Homo sapiens: one gene and its partner. The protein of the gene in region 1 purifies or fractionates together with the protein of each later gene. This does not show direct contact. Each region holds a gene or a part of one and is shown on either strand. Other genes may lie near its edges.

Region 1 (2,938 bases):
CGTCCCAGGCTCTTCCTCAGCCACCCGCAGACCAAGACCTACTTCCCGCACTTCGACCTGCACCCGGGGTCCGCGCAGTTGCGCGCGCACGGCTCCAAGGTGGTGGCCGCCGTGGGCGACGCGGTGAAGAGCATCGACGACATCGGCGGCGCCCTGTCCAAGCTGAGCGAGCTGCACGCCTACATCCTGCGCGTGGACCCGGTCAACTTCAAGGTGCGCGGGGCGCGGTGCGGGCGGGGCGGGGCGGGGCCGCGGGGCGGGCGGGGCCGCGGGGCGGGGTCGCGGGGCGGGGCGGGGTGGGGTCGCGGGGCGGGGCGGGGTCGCGGGGCGGGGCGGGGCGGGGCGGGGCGGGCGGGGCGGCCGGGGCCCGGCGGGGCGGGGCGGGGCGGGGAGGGGCTGGGCGGGGCGGGGCGCGGGGCGGGGCGGGCCGGGCCGGGGCGGGGTCGCGGGGCGGGGTCGCGGGGCGGGGCGCGGGGCGGGGCGGGGCGGGGTGGGGTCGCGGGGCGGGGCCCGGGCTAGGCCCCGCCCCCGCACTGAGCCGCCCCCGCCCCCAGCTCCTGTCCCACTGCCTGCTGGTCACCCTGGCCGCGCGCTTCCCCGCCGACTTCACGGCCGAGGCCCACGCCGCCTGGGCCAAGTTCCTATCGGTCGTATCCTCTGTCCTGACCGAGAAGTACCGCTGAGCGCCGCCTCCGGGACCCCCAGGACAGGCTGCGGCCCCTCCCCTGCCCTTCACCCTCCCACAGTTCCTGCCCTGACTCCAATAAATGGATGAGGACGGAGCGATCTGGGCTCTGTGTTCTCAGTATTGGAGGGAAGGAGGGGAGAAGCTGAGTGATGGGTCCGGGGGCTTCGCAGGAACTCGGTCGTCCCCACTGTCGTCGCGGCCTGGGGTTCACTTGGGGGGCGCCTTGGGGAGGTTCTAGCCCCTGAGCACCGGAGCTGCGGCCCGGGTGGAGCGGAGCAGTCCCGGGCCGGCCCGCGGCGTCTCCTGGGGTCCTTGAGTCGGACGGGCGTTTGTGCGTCTCCCGGCTTCCCATATCGCACAAAGATTGTCACTTCACTAAGCGTATTGGAAGCGTGTCGGGGCTCAGGGAACTTTTCCACAAAGCCTGACGTCCGAATCCCGGGACTCTGGCAGCTACGGGGGTCCCTGAGGCCGGTCCCTCCCCGACTCCTAAGAGAGTAGGGGGTTTCCTGCCCGGTGTTCTCTCTCCGGTTCCTCCCATGTGCTCCCTCCTGGCAGAGCAGTAACTTTACCCGAGGGGAGTAAACAGATGCCCCTAAAGTCTGCAGTAAAGGTGCCCACGCGCAACGGCGTGGGTCAATGCCAGAAACCCTGGGATCCCGGAGGTCGAGGCCTCCACACAGACGGGAACCCGGGCTGGTTACGTTCCCCGGCGCAGGCCGAGGGTCCCCGCGTTCCCGCCGCGCTCGGGCCGATAAGGACGGGCGGGGTGCCCGGAGGCTCTATAAGGAGGCCAGGGCGGCGGGCGCGGCCCCCAGAGCACGTCAGGCGGCGCCATGCTCAGCGCCCAGGAGCGCGCCCAAATCGCGCAGGTCTGGGACCTGATTGCGGGCCACGAGGCGCAATTCGGGGCGGAGCTGCTGCTCAGGTCGGTAGAGGCGGGGTCTCCGGGAGCTCAGGGAGGTGGAGATGAGGGTTTTGGGCGCGTGGGCCGCCAACGCCATCCAAGGTCCTTCGGGTGCGGATCCCCGGGCTCTGGGCGGTGTGGGCGCTAGTGAAGCCCCACGCAGCCGCCCTCCTCCCCGGTCACTGACCTGGTCCTGCAGGCTCTTCACGGTGTACCCCAGCACCAAGGTCTACTTCCCGCACCTGAGCGCCTGCCAGGACGCGACGCAGCTGCTGAGCCACGGGCAGCGCATGCTGGCGGCTGTGGGCGCGGCGGTGCAGCACGTGGACAACCTGCGCGCCGCGCTGAGCCCGCTGGCGGACCTGCACGCGCTCGTGCTGCGCGTGGACCCAGCCAACTTTCCGGTGAGGCCTTTCCGGCCGGGGCAATGGTGCAGCGCGCAGCCGGGGTGGGGGGGCTCTGGGGGTCCCTAGCGGGGCAGACCCCGTCTCACCGGCCCCTTCTCCTGCAGCTGCTAATCCAGTGTTTCCACGTCGTGCTGGCCTCCCACCTGCAGGACGAGTTCACCGTGCAAATGCAAGCGGCGTGGGACAAGTTCCTGACTGGTGTGGCCGTGGTGCTGACCGAAAAATACCGCTGAGCCCTGTGCTGCGCAGGCCTTGGTCTGTGCCTGTCAATAAACAGAGGCCCGAACCATCTGCCCCTGCCTGTGTGGTCTTTGGGGAGCTAGCAAAGCGAGGTCACTATTGTTGGCCAGTGAAGCTCAGGGACCTAAAAGGAGCCTCCTAGAACTCTCAAATGCGCCCCACCCCCGGAGGTTTGTCCTCCCATGGCGAGGAGTGCGATGGGGCAGAGGGAGCACTGTGATGTGGCGGGGGTAGGGAGGGTGGCCTTCGACTTCAACCCTTGAATCGGGCTTCCAACCATACTGTTCGCAAAGCACTTCCCCATTCACGCATTTATTCATTCATTCTCCCTCCATCCCCACTTCCTGCTGGGACCTGTAGATGCTAATCCTGGCCCTTTTTGCAGAGAGATGCAGAAACTGAGGTCCCAGAGCCAAATGTGCAACCTAATTCGTTGGCCCAGAGCAGAGGGCTCCGCAGACCTGTTCCTTTCCCCTTCCTTCCCCCATGGACACTTCCTCAGTGGCAAACCTGCGCTAGCCTGGTTAGCCCTCCCTGTGACCCTGCAGCCCTGGGGATGAGGTCGGGAGGAAGTCCTCAGTGGCCACAATTTGGCAGACAGAGCAGGTTTAGTCTTCCAGCCTGCTCAATGACAAGCTGTGCGACCCTGGGCGTGTCCCAGAGCTCTCAGGCCTTTACCTATCGAATAGAAAAACA
Region 2 (3,651 bases), on another chromosome or scaffold:
TTGGGGATTGGCAGGGACTTGCCTGAGAGAAAGGCTGAGGGCCCAGTGTCCCCACTCGGGCCCCCCCATGTCACTCTGGGTGACAGTGAGACTCAGTCTCAAAAAAACAAAACAAAACAAACTTGCATGGGACATATTCAGCCTGCAGTGATTTTTCTAGATCAGCCCGTGTCCTAATGGTGACCAGGATTTTCTCTCCTAACACAGGCCCATGCTATCTGACTCCTGGTGGTCAGAGAAGGGCAGCAATGTCCCCACTTCACCCTCAAGGTCCTGGGACACTCACCCCCAGGTAGAGCTGAATGGTGTCACCCTTGATGGCAGGATACAGAAGGTCAAACTCCAGACGGTCAATGCTGAGGGAAATGGGCACTGCTCAAGGACAAGAAGAAAGTTCTGTGAGGGTGGAGGGCAGTATTGGAGGGGGAAGTTGGGGGGCTGCTTCCAGGTGGAGCTGTACTGTTGCATGGGGGGGCAGGTAGGGAGGAGCAGGTAATAATGATGTTGATAATAATGATGCAAACAGTGATGACAGTGACATTTATCGAGCATCCACTAAGTGCCAGGCCTCTGCATGTCAGCTGGTTCATCTGCATGATAACGTTAGGAAGTAGGTCTTATTATTACCCCCTTTTACAGATGGTGAAACCAAGTCTGAGGAAAGGGAAATGACCTGTTCAAAGCCATACTATGAGAGCATGGGAACCCAGTCGGTTTTATGCCAAAGTCCCGGTTTGGAACGGAACTGAACTATTGTATGTAACACTCCACCGCCCCTACCAGACTGAAAGCCGCGTCCCCCATGCAGGTGGTTCTGGGTCTGGACACCCTATGAGCACCTGGATCTCAAGGAAGCTTAGGCTGGAAGCCAGAGGCCTGGTAACATCTACTCTGAAATCCAAACTGGCTCCTCTGCTCCCCCCAAAGATCTCGTGTTCGCGTCAGAATTCCCCACTTGGCCGCCAGGTGGCGGTGGTGTGTCACCTGCCCCGGTGTATGGCCGAGGATGGGGAGTGCTGGAGGGCCAGGGACCGGCCGCCTACCGCTCCAGGGAGACCTCCGGGCCCGTCCTCGGGGCAGCGGAGGAGCCAGCTGGACTTCGGTTTGAGCCCCAGTGACCTTGGCTGGTCTCTTCTCGCGTCTGAATCTGTTTCCTCGTCTTAAAATGAGGGTATAGTGCCCGCCAGGGCAGCACATGTACTAAAATCGGAAGGACATAGAGACGATGAGCATGACTCCTGTAAAAATTACTTTAAAAAAAGAAAAAAGGTCCGTCTCCAAAAAAAAAAAAAAAGTATATTAAAGTCAATAAGGTCCCCGAAAATGGCTATAACAACAACAAAAAAATGTGATTTACAAAGAGAAATCTACAGACTTGTCAACAAAATGTAATGTGTGAACTCTGGATCCTACTCTGAATACTGACCAAATATCTGACGATTGGAAGAACTCTTTGGGAATTAAAAAAAAAAAAAAGAAAAAAGGAAAGAAACGGCGGTAGAATAGTAATTCCTGCTTCATGTATACAACTGGCACCTAGTAACGGCTCAATCCGAATGACACTCGCTCAGAACTCAAGTCTTCCTCTATCACCAACTGCCTCTGTGAACTTGGACAGTGACTTCATTGCTCGGAGCCTCTTTCATCACAGTGAAGGGGGGTCATGACTGCCACCTCATGGAGTTGTCTGAGGAGTCAGTGAGATGTGCCTATACAAAACACCCAGCGGGAGGGCGTGGCCCATGGCAGATGCCCTGTGGCGCTCAGTGCATGCTGCTCTCCCTTCTCCTCTCTGGTCGCCCTTGGAATGAGCCTCTTCTGATCCCAAAGTGCAGTTGGTAGACTTTTCTTCTTCTCCGCCAGTTTCCACTCTGGGGGCCTGAGCATGGCAGAGTTCTGATGTGGGGGCAGGAGCCTGTGCCCTCCCGTATCTGCTATGCTGGGGGAGGGAGAAATGACTTCCTTCCGTCTTTGCCCTTCGAATCATCTCTGATTTTTATTTTTTAAACCAGATATCTCAGTTTTTAACCCATGCTTTAATTTCTCAGATACCTCAAACCCTTTGGATGGAGGGAAAATTTGAAACTGCAACGAGATGGATAGAACTATTTGATGCTGCAGTTTTCTAAAGTATCCATAAAAACTAGTCCGGGGGCTGCGTGTGATGGCTCATGCTTGTAATCTTAGCATCTTCTGTCTGTCCATCCATCCATCCATCCATCTATCCATCCATCCATTTAGCATGCATTTGTAAGTGCTTCTCTGTGCCAAGAGGGACACCTGCTATGTGCCCAGAACTTTCCTGTAGACTTTTATTCCTCACTAACAATCCTATGTTGTAGGGATGGTTAAGCCCCATTTTATGGATGAGGAAACCGAGGATGAGGAGGTAAATTAGCTTTCCCAAAGTCATGGAGCAAGTCAGGGGCAGAGCTGGGATTTGAACTTGGGGCATCCACTGACCTGACAACTGCACAAATAGTAAGAGCTCATGAAGTCCTAGTCGTGGCGAATTTCTGTCTGCGCGTCTGGGGCAGGGATCAACTGATGCTTGTCTCACCTGCTTCTGGGCCTGAGTTGCAGCTCAGGCCTGACTTGGGGAGGCCTTCCCTTGGTGGAGTCAGGGTCTGGAGGCCAGCTCCGTAGTAAAGGAAAAAGTGGGAGAGAGAGCAGAGCACCTACCCTTCACCAGCTGCAGGAGGTCTGCATACATGCCATTGAAGGAAGCCTCGATCACGGGACACAGCTGCAACAGCATAAGCAAGGGGCTCCATCAGGGAGGGGCCAGAATGCAGCCCCACAGCAGCCCCGGGCTGTGCCCAGCCCACCTGGCCTGTGTCCTACTGCTGTGCCCATGGCCAGCCAGGTTCCATCCATGGGTTGAGGATTCATTCGTGTGTTGAACCCAGCCTGCAGGGCCACCTGGGACCTTTTGCAGTGGTTTGTCCCTTTCCCTGTGCCCAGGGTGTGCTTGGCCTGCCAGCAGCCCTCCCTCTCTGACTCCTTGTCTTGCTCACAGGTGTCTATGTTTTCCATGAGAGTGAAATGGAGGCTGGGCGCAATGGCTCATGCCTGTAATCCCAGCACTTTGGGAAGCCAAGGTGGGTGGATCGCTTGAGGCCAGGAGTTTGAGACCAGCCTGGCCAGCATGGTGAAACCTCATCTCTACTAAAGATACAAAAAGCCAGGCATGGTGGTGCACTCCTGTAATCCAAGCTACTTGGTTGGCTGAAGCACAAGGATTGCTTGAACCTGGGAGGTGGAGGTTGCAGTGAGCTGGAATCGTGCTACTGCACTCCAGCCTGGGTGACAGAGCAAGACTCTACTTTAAAAGAAAAAACAAGAGTTAAATGGAGAATTTGTTTATTCATACAGCAAGTTGCTACTGAGTTCTTTTCACATGTCAGACTCTGGAACAGAGGCCAGCAAGGCAGACCCAACCAGACTCCTGGGCAATCTCTTTGTGCCCTTTGTGGCTTTCTAGCCCAACACATCCCTTTGCTCACTGGGCACTTCTCTTCCTAAAATTGCCAGCAGTCCTCAACAGGGGGAGATTTTGTCCCCAAGGAGACATTTGGAAATTTCTAGAGACATTTTTAGTTGTCACAACTTGGAGGGGATGACAACTAGTGGGTAGAGGCCAGGGATGCA

The links.
Region 2: the proteins of HBM (region 1) and BPIFB1 purify together in Homo sapiens (affinity purification with mass spectrometry; 2 studies listed by BioGRID and IntAct, with this or other methods). This does not show direct contact.

Annotation. Positions count from the first base shown.
Region 1 is NC_000016.10:164,474-167,411, forward strand, and holds HBM (hemoglobin subunit mu), read left to right. Parts: upstream 1-1,504; 5' UTR 1,505-1,524; coding exon 1,525-1,616; intron 1,617-1,794; coding exon 1,795-1,999; intron 2,000-2,106; coding exon 2,107-2,235; 3' UTR 2,236-2,291; downstream 2,292-2,938.
Region 2 is NC_000020.11:33,296,620-33,300,270, reverse strand, and holds part of BPIFB1 (BPI fold-containing family B member 1 precursor), read right to left. Parts: intron 2,747-3,651; coding exon 2,683-2,746; intron 2,155-2,682; exon of another isoform or gene 1,427-2,154; intron 1,201-1,426; exon of another isoform or gene 418-1,200; intron 373-417; coding exon 287-372; intron 1-286. UniProt on the Homo sapiens protein: May play a role in innate immunity in mouth, nose and lungs. Binds bacterial lipopolysaccharide (LPS) and modulates the cellular responses to LPS.